2 separate regions of the Homo sapiens genome follow, and region 2 is linked to region 1. The links come from fine-mapping of genetic effects on gene expression. Tissue or cell type: testis. Region 1 holds a variant in brackets; the other region holds the start of a gene. All regions are shown on one strand. Distances are between the middles of the regions.

Region 1 (8,184 bases):
GGTCACTGCTTTGTAATGAGAGAAACTGTAAAATATCTGCATTTAAAAAAAATGCTATTTCTTTTGTAAACTACCATATTATTTTTGTAAAATTTCCATGTGAATATGTAATATAAGGTATTTTATATAACCCATAAACATCTAAATATAGCCAATTTATCAACATTTATAATTATATTCTTTTTATATCCATATTCATATTTTATCTCTAGTCTATCATAATCTGATGGCTATATGTTAAAATCTACTACTAACAATAAGTGACTGTCATTCTCTTATTTCTTACTGTTTTTATCATTTTGATGCTGTACTAGTTAGCATATCCAAGGGTATAAATGTTTCATTTTAATTGTGTTGGCAATTGGCTGCTAAATATAAATTGATAAATCAGATGTTGATTTATAGTTCTATTAGCTTGCCACTCTCACTCTGTTGATTTGTGTTTAATTGGTAAATCTTTGATTATCCTTTTATTTTTAACCTTTCTGTATCTTTCTGATGATTCATCCAGCTCATTTGTGATAGCTACCTTCAGAGCTAGTGTAGGGATACCTATGATTCCACATTAACCCAATAGATGCAAAGGTTAGACATATCAGTACACTTGGTATTGATATATTTGAAGCTTTATATAATGTTGGCACTATAGACACCACTGTGCTTGCTATAGGGCAGGCTCTCTGGTGTGTCAGTACATGTCTCAACTTTTGAAAGCACCCTAGCATTAAGTGCCAGGAATTATCCAACTTGGCTCAAGGCAGAATGCGTGTCTTAATGCTCCATTAGTAATTAATGAAGGAAGCAAACAGTTTCTCTTATGGAAGGCCTGCCAAAGCTCCGTTTACCTCTGTGCACCAGTGCCATTAAAATGAATGCAGCACTTGTTAGGAAGCAACAGATGTTTAGCACTAAGCAGACAGATTAGAACACAGACTCTTTTTAAACTGCATTTAATGATGTCAGATCAAGAAACACTCACTGAGGTAGGAACTGAGGGAGATATGCAGAAGTAAAAAATGCTGTCCTTTGCACTCCAGGAGCTAGAATTTTATAGACAATTAAACAGGTATAGAAAATATAATAATTTTAATATTATACAGTTGCAAAGGGCCAAATGCAGTTATCTGGTTCATTATAATATTTAGGTTATATTGATCTATTGTACCTGAAGCCAAGTCAAACAAAATAATATGATGCTATGGATGCCATTTGGTCTATTCATCCCAGCCTCCTTAACTATCTTACTGCACTAACCAACAACAAATAATCTAAAAATATGCATTGAGCACATAATATATAATCAAAACCTGGGCTAGGTACTAGAGGGTCAGTGATGAACCAGATAAATGTAGGCTCTGCTCTCATAGTTCATAGAGAAACAAAAAGAAACAAACGTAATACAGCCAGTTGTAATGCACTGATAATGTAACCAGGATACGGCAGTGTGTCACAGTTGTGTAGAGGAGAAGTATCTAGCCCAGATCTAGGCCACGGAAGACTCCCTGTAGCAACATACTGTGTAGCAATAATTACGTTAGGTGCTATAGACGACATAAATGTGAAAGACATAGTTCCTGTTCTCTAGTTCGTTCTTCATTCTAGTTGGTTACCCATGACTAACACAATAAGCCAGTAGTACATAATAAGATATATTCCCAACATAATGTATTGTAGTATAGACAATAGATGGTGGTATAGAGAACAGACCATTGTACAAAGCTAGGTTGGAGAGAAATTAAGAAGTTCTTCTCTAAGAGTGTTGCTGAAACTCAGGAGTGAAGTGACAAGGATTGGAATTAGGGTGGCTGCAACATGAGTTAAATAAGATTTCTAGCAGTGCACAGGAGAGAGATGAGTCAAAAGCTTGTGAGGTTTCAAAATCTGATTTGAGAAAAGAATACCATTAATAAAGATAGGATCTTTCACTTACAGCTTTGAAATTATTTCAGGCAATTAATTAATCCTGTCCTGTGATGATGCTTTATTTATGTTTCCACCACAGCCATGGCACTCTAAAAATGTCTCTAGAATAAATGGAAAATATTTAATTCTTGCCAAATGAGTTTTAAGCCCAGTTGCGTTTATATAAACTTTGCTTTATATAATAAAATTGGTACCATGCAGCTGTTTATTTCTAAGCTCTAGATATCAAATCATTGGTAGACTTTCTTTGTATTGCCATGGCAATAAAGTTGCACTCAGATGTAATTGTCAAGGGAATGAGAAAGAAGGACAGTTGGTCTTATTTGAGTCAGAACCCTTAAATCTCTTTCTTGGCCTGTGCTGGAACCCTCCATAAAAATCTGCCAATCTTTTGACCGCATCCTGCTCTTCTCTGCATTCTCACCCTCTGCTATGTGCCTCCAATTCTCCCTTCTGTACGTATCCCTTTGAGGTTGGCAATTCAGCTGGGAAGTTGACCTGGTTGGTTTGAGTCTCTCCCTGGCCTTGGAGACCTGATCAACCTCAGCTCCAAGTTTTGCCACTCATGGTCTTGTTCGGTGTTAACAAAGCCCCCAACAGCACTCCCAAGGACAACCTCTAACAACTCCAATGATCGCTTGTCCAGAAGAGGGCACTAACTTTTCTGGTTACTTAAAAACTCCCTTGGGTTTCAAATCCATTTTCCTGTCTCTATGATTTTGAAGATCAGTTGTTAGTACCTAGTAAACAGAAATATGAAAATTAAATACCTTCTGACCCCCAAAGTTTTACTTGGCTCTGAACAGCCATGGCCTTTTTGTTGCACTGGTAGGGTTTTTTTCATTGTTTAATTTTAGAGTAAATCTCTGTTATCATATTTTATCTTGATATAATTTGACTCTCTAAAATGTGCATAAAAAACAAAATCCGAATTAACAGAGGTTTCCGATTATAGTACCATCTCACTTATCTCTTTAGAGAGAACGTGCTGTTTCATGTAGTATTCAGATCACTGAAGCATCGGTTTAAGATCAAGATTTATTTAACCATTTTAAAGGAGAATTTTCCACTATGAACATTAGGTAAATACTTTAAACAGCAGGAGAATATGACTTTGCCTGTTCTTGATAATTTGGGACTATTACTGGGAATATCAATGACTATACAGTGTTGTAACAGTGTATTCTCAGAGTATTAAAGGGCATTCGGATATAAAACTATATTAAATGGGCCGGGTGCGGTGGCTCACACCTATAATGCCAGCACTTTGGGAGGCAGAGGCGGGTGGATCACAAGGTTAGGAGTTCAAGACCAGCCTGGCCAAGATGGTGAAACCCCATTTCTACTAAAAATACAATTACAGGCAGGCGCCTGTAATCCCAACTACTCAGGAGGCTGAGGCAGGAGAATCACTTGAACTTGGGGAGTAGAGGTTGCAGTGAACCGAGATCATGCCACTGCACTCCAGCCTGGGCGGCAAAGTGAGACTCCGTCTCAAAACAAACAAACAAACAAACCTATATTAAATGGTCCCAGATGCAATAGTTTTTAATGTTCTTTGTCACCTCACTCCTTCTAAGTTATTAATTCTAGTCATCCCAAATCCTTTCCATAATGAAATACAATAAATTGAGAGTGCGCCTAGGCCCTGCAAGTCTCTTCTAATTTTACCCTCCCCCGCACAACACACACACACACACACACACACACACACACACACGGGGATCTTATCCAAATGTGGATTCTGATTCAAGGTGAAGGGTGGGGCCTGAGATTCTGCATTCCTCACAAGCTCCCAGATAGTGCAGATGCTGCTGGTCCATGAGCCACATTTTCAGTAATAAGGGGCTAGAAAATGAGAGAGCCAGGCTTATTAAAATTATATATAAAATGAGATAAAATTAGCTCCGAGAGAGTGCCTAGGTGATCTTGCTTTATGGAATTTGTGACATCGGTGTGGCTGCTAAGAACCTTCTTAAAAGTCTGCAGTTTCAGATAAAGGAGCTGTCACTGCCGTTGTAGTCCTTTTACTTAAAGTTTTACTCTACAGAGGCACTTGCTCACACTTTGCAAGGAAAGGATCCTGCTGCCCCATTTTTTACTTACGCTAGTTCTGTGGGAATTAGAGGTAAACACCTCCCTTGAACGTGAGTTCTCATAGTATAAGCGATGTCCGTTGGAGAGCCTGATGATGTCCCACCACGATGCAACGGCTCTCCTGGCTGGGGCTAGTGGAAGCAGTTTTGATGGAAGTTAAGGTTGGTCAGAAATTAAGAACATAAATGGGACCTGCGTTACTTCGTCACTCTGTCTCTTTTTTTTTTTTTTTTTTTTGTGATGTTATGGTTTCAACAGTTTCAAAGTGCTTTCATCCTTATTAAAAACGTCCTAGTGAGGTCAGTAGGACAAGAATCACTATTCATCATTCTAAGTGAGAAAGTGAGACCTGGGGAAAGGTTTCTTGCCTAAAGCCACTCAGCAAGTTGGTGCTATTTTGGATTCCAGCCCTGTGTTCACTCTACAGTGGCACTGAGAGAGCCCCCACGAGGCCTTCTGCGTCCATTCATACCCTTTCCAGTGCGTTTCCGTCTTCCAAAGATGAGCTGGAGCTCCACAGCCA[CAG/G]TTAGTAGAATGACCTGTCGGGGTACCTGGGGTCTCTCATAGTTTCCAGGTCACTCAGGGGATCTCCGGTGTCAGTGACTACTGCAGAGCCAGGCCCCGGCAAAATGGCTCTGGGATGGGACGCCACCTGTGGGCCTCGCCACCATGGTTCCTTCGCACCTGAGTGCCCACCTCACGCTGGAGGTTTGGAACATCCGGACAACCCCTGCCCTCCAGACTCTGCCACACAACTTGGGAACACCCTGACAAGCCCGCAGCCAGCATCGTCCCATTCGCACCCCTCACGCTGCCTGCAGCCCTGGGGATTCATGCAATTGGGCACTGGCGCTGGGCAATAAAGAATTGTGGTGGGGCAGCCTGGTGCCAGGGAGCCAGTCGCCCACCTCGTAAAAAGGGAGTTCTGTGAGGAGCGTCTGGCAGGGAGCGGGCACAGGCCCCTGAATACCAGCCATTCAGCTGAAGGGAACGGGTCCAGCAGTTTTCACTTATGTTACCACAAACAGCAGATGCTAAAAATACACTGCGGTCTCGATACATCATTCAGAAAGCGACGGACCAGTTTTCCTTTTGTCAGCGGTCTGGGAGCCTGAAGCAGTCGGATGGGGCATTCCAGACACCGCCTGGCCTCCTTTGGTTTCCCCTCAGACTCTGACAGAGCTGAAGGTGCCAGCGCGAGAGCGCCCGAGGAGACCAGGAGAGAAGGTGGAGAGGCGGCAAGGCTCCCCAGGCTAAGGGAAGGCAAAGCGGAGTGGGGCGAGGAAGGGGCGGGGTGGCTCCTTCTGGAGGCCACAGAACAGCCTGGGACTCCCTGAGGCGACACCGGCCGCAGGCACCAGGCACTGGGGGCTAAGAGAAACCCCGAGACCCAGAAATCTCCTTCCTAAGGTCCAACTTGCCCCAAAAGTTGTTTTTTCTTTTTTTTTTTTCACTACTTGAGGTAAACACATACACAATTTTACAAAAAGCGCCATCACTTGTCCACAATCAGAGGACTCATTCGTCAGCTTCTATACAATCTGCGCTTGGTTTCTCCTTCTCAGTAAGCACTCAGGCAGTTCCACCACACGCTATTGTCTCCACAGGAAAGAAGAAGACAGAGGCAAAGAGAAAGAGCAGGAGAGGGAGAAACAGATTGGCCCCTAGGAATGGGGAAAGGAGGCTGAAAGAAATGGCCAACATGAGGGTGGAACTTCATATTTTAGATGTCTGACTCCCAGTTTCTGCTTCCTCCATCCCAAGTAACTGAAGTGAGATAAAAGAAAAGAACAGAGTCATTTTCACACATCCTTTCTCAAAATTCACTCTTATTTATAAGACCTTTTGGCCTTGACTCCTGGTGAGAAATGAGGGTCCCAACATTCAAACCTATTTATGAAAAGCAAATATTTTCATTTACTGAGGACCCACAGAAAGAGAGCACTTTTTATACAAAGAGGCTTTTATAGCTTCCTGTTGTTAGGGCCCTGAGTTCAAGTCCACATTCTGCCACACACTGTGGGATTCTCATAACCTCCCAATCTCACTGGACCCCAATTCCTCCCCTTTTAACCCGGGGATAACATGCTTGTGGGAGGATACAAATCGGATACTGTATGTAAAATGCTTACCTCAGTACCTGGTATGTAATAAGCACTCCATGAACGTTAGCTGCTTTTCCTATCTAGTCAACATTTCCTAACAGCACAATTAACAGAGCCGAAATTAATGATCCTGCATATTTTTCATTGTGGTGATCATGGTCCTGTGTTTGAGGTATTGAGCAACAGGGCTCAGGACATTTGAGCTTTTTACTAACATCAGTGCCTCCTCATCAATTCAAAACTAAATAAAGTCATGCTTTGCCTAACAAAGTTACAAATCCAGGCAGCATAATCCCTTCTCTCAAGGAGCTTGCTCTCCAATAATAGGGGACAAAATATGTCCACATAAACACACATCTGATGTTTGTGCCTGGTGGAAGAGATCATGAGCACTAGCGGAGAAGAGAAATTTGTCTCCCATAATGGGAAAATGAACACACAATAGTTTATACTTAGAGATGGATATTATCACCTCAGCTCTCCTCCCTAGTAACAGAATTTAGTTTAAGCTGTTTAGAATGGTGAGGGTTTATGTTGCAATATCCACATTCTCTAAACTCACATGACAAGTGACCCCCAAAGCACACAGCATTTGGTAATTGAGAAAAACAAAGGAATGATTCTATCTGTGCTGAATTGGCTAATTCATTGACTTGCCTCAGGGCAGAGGGCTGGCCCTGGCAGTTTGCTAGAGTGATCCTTCTGCTCTGAATTCGAGCCTGGTCCCTCACAGGGACTGCCCCACATAGCCGGCAAGGGCAGACACCCTGGCTGGCACTATCCTGTCCTTGTAGGAGAGATCTAAATTGGGTTGAGCCTGTTGGCAGATAAGCAAAATGAAACCCATTCGGATATTTTGTCTTGAAAGGCATTTGTTTTCATTCCTTCTCTTTCTTCTTCTGCTTTTCCCCCTCATACTAGGATCTAAAAAACTCAGGCTCCTTGGGGACCAAAGCCAACATTATCATCATCTACTCAGAGGCACGCAAACAGTGAAGGCAGAGACGCAAATTCTGAGTGCACTGCATTTGTAGCTTTCACATCTACATGTGGTCCCAATTTAGGATCACAAGCAGAGTTGTTTATTTTAGAAAAGCTTTTTAGTTAACTTTTAAGGTATTTTGCTTAAGCATTGCTTGCTTTCCAAAAGGAGAAAACGTGTATTTTTTTTTTTTTCTGAAGCGGTGTTTGTTTTGGCTGTTTACTCATTTGCAAAAGTTCAAATTTTATCCTATGAATTTAACTAATTTTTCTGTAGTCACCACAAACCCCACCCCCTCTAACACATACACACAAAACCCCAAAATAAAATAATCTGGAAGTGAAGCATTTTTAGGAGAGGTGTGAATTTAGCAGGTTTTGAAAAAGCCGTTTCAAATAGGTAATTTGCAATAGCACTTTTAGCTCCTTCATGTAACTTTTATTTGCCGTCTGAAATGAAGTCTCAACTTGGCAATTTGTATGAAGGCTAAGCATGTCTTTATACTAAGGTTAAGGCTCATGTTTGTCCTTTAAAAACTTTATTTTATAATTCTTGCTGAAATTATATGGCTTAGCTGAGGGTCAGAGTGGAGCTTAAGTTGAGGTATCAGTTATTATTGAAAAAATAACGGGATATAGAACTGTGGTGGTGGTGGTTGGGATTCGGTGAGGATATGGACACAAAACTGTGAAAAAGTAAAAATATGGACTTGGGCTCTCTAGCATCTGGTTCCATATACAGGCCTACCGCCTCCAATTATCTAAAGCTCCCACTTCATCTTCCTTTCTGAAACTACACTTACTTATGACATCATTTGTCCAGAACCTGAGCCCCACCTCTCTGTTCTCAATGACATAGCAGGTCCTATGTATCATTCCTTTGGGTAAGCTTCTCTACTAACATGATAATGAGTGCTAATTAACATGTAGTACTCTGCTCCTGTAGGATTTGCAACTTAGAGGATTTCTGGGATAATTCTCTTAAAGTAGTGACTTCACCAACAGGAATTCCAGGCCCCCTGGTGTGCCAGCTCAAGGGATAAGCAGAGTATGTCGGGTTCCCAGGTAAGGAAAAGGG
Region 2 (8,184 bases), 32 kb after region 1:
CCTCTCCACTCAGACTGTGAATCTTTAGGGCAGAGCTGCACCAGTCTCCTGCCTAGTGCCTGGTATATAGTGGGTACTAAATAGTTGGATACTGGAGGGAATGGAGTCTCTGGATAAAGAGGCTTTTGATGCCCCGGGAGTGGCTGTTTCTTTTCCAGCACAGCTGATCAGGCCTCAGGTATTAGTGGAAACTCAGAGAACTCCATGACAACAGCTTAGGTGAATAACCAAGCACTTCCTGCCTTAAAAAGGTAGATATTTATTGTTTGTCTCAAAAGAGCTGGCCTGAAATATATAGGTGTGCTTGAAGTAACGGTGACAGATGCTGAGAAGGACTGAGATTCTCCCTAAAAGGGATGACAGGAAGCTCTGTCGGATTTGTTCTAATTCAAGCCATGTGCTAGGTTTGCATGCTTGCCGATTCAACGCATTTGTGTTAATCCACTCCTGAAATCAAATGTCAACCTAAACAGACTACAATCTCACCGAATTAGTTTTACTCAATGGCTTAAAACTATGGGTAACAAAACAGAAATAAGAATCATCTATCAACAATATTCATGGCATTCACAGAACCCTAGGGCAGATAGCATTTTTAGAAAATCACAGACTCTGGCAAAATAGTGCATAATCAATCTGTAGGGAACAAACAGCATTTGGTTGGTATGCTTTTAGAGATAATTCTCATTTTCCTTCGGACCCACTCCATGGGCAAATCCTTGAACTATAAGGAAATGCTCCCTTGCATTTAACTGAAATTAACCATGCTACTTCTTTAGGATTCTGCCTTAGTGGAGAAGGAGATCATTAGAATCAGAGGATAAAAAGCAAAGCATGGAAATAAGGAATCTGTCTAACGCTGCATCACCAGCTCATAGAAGCTAGATTCTCTTTATAAACAAATCATTAAACAACAAACAAATGAAGTACTGCTTTCTAATACAAGTATTATGACCACATTGCCAGAAACTTGGAAAACTTCAGGGGGAAAATGGTCTTGCCACCTTAAAACGATTTAATTATTCTTAATTTATTATTTAATAAAATTGTTATATTTTTAAATATTTTCAAAAGCTTTCACGTAAACTCTTAATGTCAGTACCTCTTTTGTCTCCTCTTGGGTATACTGGAGTCATTCCTAGGAATCAAGTCAGATCCTGTAGGTTCTACATTTTGAAGCTCTTTTACAAGTACTGGCTGGCATTGACTCAAAAGGCAGCTATCTGATGACACAATTTCCTGAAGATCAGCAGTGAGGAGAAAACATCATGTCTGGGTTCTAATCTTTCTTTAGTGATAACACTAGATGCTCCTTCATTCATTCAACAAACATTAATTGAGCACCTATTATGTACCAGACATTGTGCTAGGTGCTAGGGCTACAGCTATGAATTAGATAGATAAGGTCCCTGCTCTCACAGGACTTATAGTCTCATGTGGGTGTGTATATGTAAGTATGTAGACACTGTGTAGAAGAAGAAAGGGAAAACCATGAGAAAGTAGAGTCTCTTAAAAATTAGCTTCCTCCTCTGAAAAAAATAGGATAATAAAGGCATCTACTTATAAGGTTGTTGTGAGAAGTGTGCAAATATATTATTTAAAATGCTAACGGAAACTTCAAACCATCAGAACACAGTAAATACCTTCAATGCTCTGGGGGCCCACAAGATTCATGGCCTGGTGAGCTGGATATTCCACTCGGGGCCTGGCAATGCCCAATTGCTCCATAACACCATGAAGCAGCCTCTGGATATCTGCTTCTGAGACCCGGTCAGGGGTCCGGGGGCTGTAAGCAAATGCTGGAGTCCATCCAGATGCCAGCCAAAACAGTAGGCCAGATAGCATGGTAGAGACCATCCTGGAGACCATTGTCAACCTGCAGATAAAAGACCAAATGTATACTGATAGGCTACAATCGGCAATTGTGATAATACAATTATAATGATGCAACCACTCCAGGTTGTGGTTCGAGGACCACCCAGAAAGGGGTTGTAACAAAGAATCCTTAGGAGGTTGCTTTTGTCTTAAGTTTCCATGCTAGGCAGAGCATCATTGCAGAAAGGTATTAAACAAAACAGTTGCAGGTATCCAATTCCCTCTGTTTGCATTCTTGAGAAAGCTAGGCTGGAATGGCGGTTCTCACTCATAATTTTTATCCTCCTTGTAGCTCCCTGAAAGTTCTGCATTACTCCTAACTTCATCACTCTCTCCCTCTCTTACTAAAACAAATAAACCAAACTTGCTTACATTTTGAGAAAGAGATAGTGGCATCTTGGGTTTTCCCAGTCTCTGGGAATAAAAGTCTAACAGGAGGGAGTCAGGAAGACACAAATCAAGAAGCTCAGGAAGGTTGGGAGTGGTGGCAGGGAAACATTTCAGTTTAGCAAACATCCAATACGTTTGCGATCCTGAAAGGAAGGAAAATGTTCCTTAGATCCAGCCCTGCAATCTGCTGGGGTAGTTTGAGGTTTGTTTGCTCAGCCACATGCTGAGTGATCGTAGGCAAGTCCCTCAGTTTCCTCCTCTGCAAAACGGAGATAATTAAAGCATTTACCTTTTAGGGTTGTTGTGAGGGTGTGTGCAAATACATGTTAAGAGTGTTTAGGACAATGCCAGGCACAGAATGAGCCCCTATATTGCTATTATTATGTTGCTAACATTGCCTTAACAGTTCTGGAGGTTAGAATATGGGGAGGCAGTGGTGGTGAGAGGGAGTTAACTAGCCTGGGGGTGGGAGGGTCAACCTGTCCAAAATGTTGGTTTCTATGGGTATGTCTGCAAAACAAGTGAACATTATCCTTGCAGCTTACCCCACAGCTGCTTAACGTGTTTGGATGCATGCTTCAGGCAGCGGCCTTGCAAACCCTTTTTTTTTTTTTTTTTTTTTTTTTTTGAGACGGAGTTTCACTCTTGTTGCCCAGGCTGGAGTGCAGTGGCGCCATCTCGACTCACTGCAACCTCCACCTCCCAGGTTCAAGTGATTCTCCTGCCTCAGCCTCCCGAGTAGCTGGAATTACAGGCGCCCACAACCAAACCCGGCTAATTTTTGTATTTTTAATAGAGGCAGGGTTTCACCATATTGGTCAGGCTGGTCTCGAACTCCTGACCTCAGGTGATCCACCCCCTCCCCTCAGCCTCCCAAAGCGCTAGGATTACAGGCGTGAGCCACCAGGACCGGCGCAAACCCTCCTTCTAATCATTCTTCTACTGAGGATGGGGGATGGAGAGGTGGGAGGAGGCAAAATCGTGCATTTCCTTTACTGAAACAAAAATTTTTATACCCTCCAATTTCTTTTTCTGCAAAGAAAAGGCCTTTTCTAGCCACTAGATATAAAACCTTGCTCTCCAAAGAGCTGAGAGTAGCTGTTTAACAGCAAAATCTGCAATTCTGATGGAAAAGGCTGGAGGCAGACACGAGGCTCTCCATCTCCATCTTTCCCTTGTCCACTCTGAATGCAGGATGTCATCCCAGCAAACGCCGCTCTGATTTGATGAACTACACAATCTCCTCCCTCAGTACTCCCTTCCCCTTACTGATAGCCAAACATTCTAATCCCCTACGCATCCTTCGTCTGACCCCAGCCTCCACCTCAAGGATTTTAGCAGGACGCCCTCCCACAACTGGCAATACCAAATCTCGGGTTGGCGGCAGGCGGCCGAGCCGACATCAAAACTGTACTCACCGAGGGGCAGCCCGAGGAGCCTACTGCGGTATGGGCCTTGGTGGGGGTCAGGCCAGGAACGGGCGAACTGGAGAGCTAGTGCGTCACCCTCCTCCGCATCTTAGCTCCGCCCCGGCCCCTCCTCCAGCAGGTGGAAGCTGCCTCGCCAGGACTCCCCAGACTGCATCCCAGATAAGTGTGCCTCTCACCAGGAGCCGCACAGCTCTTCAACCCCCACATTCTGCATACAAACCTCTTGACTATGACATTTCCTAGAGACCCTCTTCAGCTCCATCGACCTCCATGTAAGTCATTCACCTCCTCAGTCTCAATTACAACGTGCCAGATCACCACTACAGCACACCTTTAATTTTGTCAACTTCTAGAATATGTTTTTTGTTTTTGTGTCTAAAGCCTTTCAGCTTCAAGAGGGAAGAGGCAATGAATGGTAGAGAGACAAAAGATGAAGTCCTAAGAACTTTTAATGGTGGCTATGATAAGGTATACCCTGCTCTGAGGGGCCTCTTACTAATCAGGAAAACTATGGGGATATTTAATACAAGAAGCCAGAAACTTCCATTAAAGTGATAAACTTGAAAATCTGTAGAAATATCAGCTCTGAGTGTTATTTCTAAACGTCCACACAAACCATCAAGTAAAATTCCACTTTGGCCTGAAGAGAAACCATACTCCCAGCATACTGTAGAAGTATGTCCAGGTAGTCCCAGATTCTTAAATAAGGGTTTATGGAGCACCTACTATGTGCAATCTTGAACACTGAAATTTGTTCAAATACTAAAATCAAAATGTAAAGCCATACAATAAATATGGCACTACAAATTTGATCAAGATGGAGGATGAGTAAAGAACCTGGGGGTCTCAAAACAAGTAACCTGATGAGGTTAGAATCCAGATCTATTTATCTTAGCTCTAGAGAGCAAATCCATTATCATCTACAGCAATTTTTATGCAATAAATAGAGGCTGGCAAAATTCATTTATGAGACACATGGCCTTTCATTTTGAAGCCAAGCCTCTTTCCCAGTACTTTTTCTTTCACGGATGCTCATCTGCTTCTTGCTTCTTGTTTCAATGCATGCTAAATCAACAGGACAAACACTATCCATTAAATGGCTCTAGGCTCACTGGCCATGCTGGAGTTAGTATTTATTATTGATGCACAGAGACTTTTTTCAATTCTGAGTTTTACTTTAGCTTTGTTCATTGTTATCTTCATTTTGTGGTTGAAAAAAATGAAGTCACTACAATTTACTGCTTTTGTGTTAAATTTAACTGAAATAGATCAAAATGCCTATGCTTCATTTGAAATTTGGTGTTTCAAAAATAAAACTTCATATATATTTAAGAGATCACAGAGGTTAGGTGCAGTGGCTCACGCCCATAATCCCAACACTTTGGGAGGCCAAGGTGGGAGGATCACAAGGTCAGGAGTTCGAGATCAGCCTGGCCAATATGGTGAAATCCCGTATCTACTAAAACTACAAAAATTAGCTGGGCGTGGTGGTGCATGCCTGTAGTCCCAACTACTTGGGAGGCTGAGGCAGAAGAATCGCTTGAACTCGGGAGATGGAGGTTGCGGTGAGCTGAGATTGTGCCACTGCACTCCAGCCTGGACGACAGAGTGAGACTCCGCCTCAAAAAAAAAAAAAAAAAAAAAAGAAAAGAAAACAAAAAACAAACTAACTAAAAAAGATCACAAAATTAAGGTTTAAATTCTGCCACAATTAAGAAAAACATGACTATTAAAATCCTACATTAAGTTCTTAGTGATCATATTATAGAATGTGGCCATGCAGTCTACTAAGTTCTATGTATTAAGTTGTTATTAGATAACCAAATTAATATTAGATCTTTATTTACATTTATAAGACAGTGAGAAGAACCCATGAGGTTACTGCACGTCCAGACACTTTCATATCATTTCCTCAAATATTCCATGAAGTTAGCAACATTATCTCTATTTTGTATAAGAAAAAATAAAAACGCATTAAATCAAGTTTAAAACAAAACTTTTCTGGCTCTCTAGTTACCCTACCTTCAAGCTAGTCACCTTCACATTCCTGTAATACTCCGTATAGCAGCTTTCAGCTAACAAAAATAGGAGTCACATGTGGTAGTTTTTAAAACAGACATGTTTCATTATTGATTCATCTCTCAGAAAAGCCAGTTCAGGTAGTATGTACAGTTAAACCCCTAGGACTTCTTACTGAATTAGTCTTCAAATTCAACATTTCATCCTTCCCTTGATGGATATAAAAAGACGTTAATGCATTTTTAAAATTTAAAAATTGTTTAAAGCAGACAACATATATCTGACTATATGAATATTTTGTCTCTACTTACAATTAGAAATGCCATAAACATCTACAAACCTATTTGATATCAAATAAACAAAGTAGAACCTAGCCAAGCAAACATCTGATGATTTGAAATTCCTCGTACATACTTATGCTGTAAGTCTGGTTGCTCCGAGTGGCATGAATGCTGCTCTAATCTGCTCCAACATCTAAACATGACATTCTAACAACCAATCTGAAAAACTACCTTTAGTGGTTGATTCTGTCTGCTTATTCCTTCCTCTACAACCTAGAGAATATGTTCTATTGTTCATAATACTCTTTCCTCAAAGATGTGTAATTTGTAATAATTTAAAATATAAATTTAGACAGATTTACTTGACAATTTGGTGCATGTTCTAAATGGCACTTTGAATTTCATGAGAGCCTTAGTCAAGTCATTTTCCAGAGAGTTATCTTTAATGTCTATGCTAAATAAATAACATTTACACACAGGACAAAATCATCATAGGTTTTTATCCAAGTAAAAAAGGTAAAGAGGTGCATCTACTATTTCAAATTCCAAAATCGAGCATCTACATATAAGAAATCACCTTGGTTAATTTTTTTCAAGATTATCCCTCTTTAAATAATTGCCAAATCTATATTGGACAGAACAGACACAAACGTGTTTGTGCAAATTATCTTTAAAAACATAGTATGGCTTAAAAGTTATCAATTATTTCCACATCATAATATATGAACATATTTTAGTCATTATTCTGCCTTAACCATTGTTCTTAGTTCGAGTGAACACAAGGTACACCTACTGGCACTATAAATGAAATTACTCTGCCCCAAATAAAAATAGAGTTTTAGGATGCTATTGAAGGAAATTAATTTCTAGGAATTTTGGCAAGGACAATAAACATTAATATAATTCCAGACATAAGATTTGCAGAGTTTATCTCTACCCTTTATATGCTAGAAATTTATTTATTTTAGAAACCTTATCTGACTTGGAGGAAATAGGCACAACTTGCTCCATTCTTTCTATCACACAAAAATATGTCATTTTCAAAAATTAACTTCTTATAAATCCAGTAAACAATTTCTTTAGAAAGGTAAAGTCTAGCCGGGCGTGGTGGCTCATGCCTGTAATCCCAGCACTTTGGGAGGCTGAGGCGGGCGGATCACAACGTCAGGAGATCGAGACCATCCTGGCTAACACGGTGAAACCGTCTCTACTAAAAATACAAAAAATTAGCTGGGCGTGGTGGCGGGCACCTGTAGTCCCAGCTACTCGGGAGGCTGAGGCAGGAAAATGGCATGAACCCAGGAAGTGGAGCTTGCAGTGAGATTGCGCCACTGCACTCCAGCCTGGACGACAGAGTCAGAAAGGTAAAGTCTAACCTCTGCTTTAAGAGATCACAATAAAATTAAAGTTTAAAAATTGCCATCATTAAGAAAAACAAAGAAGTAATTTGTACAAATAAAAATCTAAGTTGCTTGTACAGTGAAAAAAATGAAACATTTTCAATAGAGCAAATCTATTGCTTAACAATCATCCTGAGCTACAAACTAACATGTACATCATCCTGCAAGTCATACCAATTACTCACTTTATTTACATTAATGACAAGTATAACATTTACCAATTACAAATCTACAGGTTTACTTGTTGGTAGTAATTGAGTTTTTCCGATAGGATGTTTTGGAGAACCTTTGTACCAGGCCCTTCCTCTTTCTGATGGTCTCCTAAGGACCCTGTTATTTATCCCAGAAGAAATGCCCATGTTGTTATTTACAACTGGTTTTACTATATCATGATTAGTCAGATCATCCAAGGGAACCTTAACTTGGCCATCAGATAAGATCTTCTGTTTATAAACTGTAGTAGACCTAAGAGAAGCATTCACTGAATCTGGGTGCTTCCTCATCTTTAAGAAAGATTTCGAGGGTAACTCCATGCTTGACTTTGAAATTGCACCAATATTTGACTCTTCACATGACATGGACTTCTGTTCTTTAGGACCTGATTTGATACATGAAACAGAGGAATCTTTTGATGCACTTTCTATACAAGAGGAAAGAGCACCGTCACAGCTCACTGATTTGACCAAAGGAGAAGCTGTATCACCAAGACTCGCCAACTTATGCCCTGTAGGTTGTCTGCTATACTCCAACAAAGAATTAATTCTTCTGACGGACTGACGAACAGGAGTA

Which allele goes with the higher level. Positions count from the first base shown, and alleles are read on the strand shown. Sizes are in standard deviations (SD) of each study's normalised expression.
For the expression in testis of the gene that starts at base 3,752 in region 2, CAG is the low allele of the variant in region 1 and G is the other (moderate effect, 0.46 SD a copy in GTEx).

Evidence for each region. PIP is the estimated chance that this variant, and not a neighbour inherited with it, causes the effect.
Region 2: it holds the start of SCG5, and the variant in region 1 is fine-mapped to the expression of SCG5 in testis (GTEx, PIP above 0.99).

What each region holds. Positions count from the first base shown.
Region 1 is chr15:32,668,987-32,677,170 of GRCh38, reverse strand. All of the region lies in intron 10 of ARHGAP11A-SCG5 (ARHGAP11A-SCG5 readthrough), which reads right to left. All of the region lies in intron 2 of SCG5 (secretogranin V), which reads right to left. It overlaps SCG5-AS1 (SCG5 antisense RNA 1), which reads left to right and starts at 4,106. Exons shown (of 4, transcript NR_135505.1): 1 at 4,106-4,181; 2 at 8,053-8,171. RefSeq lists an enhancer at 6,457-6,989. The variant CAG/G (reference allele first, on the strand shown) is at 4,544.
Region 2 is chr15:32,637,278-32,645,461 of GRCh38, reverse strand. It overlaps SCG5 (secretogranin V), which reads right to left and starts at 3,752. Exons shown (of 6, transcript NM_001144757.3): 1 at 3,684-3,752; 2 at 1,644-1,876. The coding sequence starts at 1,869. It overlaps ARHGAP11A-SCG5 (ARHGAP11A-SCG5 readthrough), which reads right to left. Exons shown (of 14, transcript NM_001368319.1): 10 at 1,644-1,876. ARHGAP11A (Rho GTPase activating protein 11A) reads right to left here. Exons shown (of 12, transcript NM_014783.6): 12 at 5,521-8,184. The coding sequence ends at 7,617. RefSeq lists enhancers at 2,980-3,618, 3,619-4,259.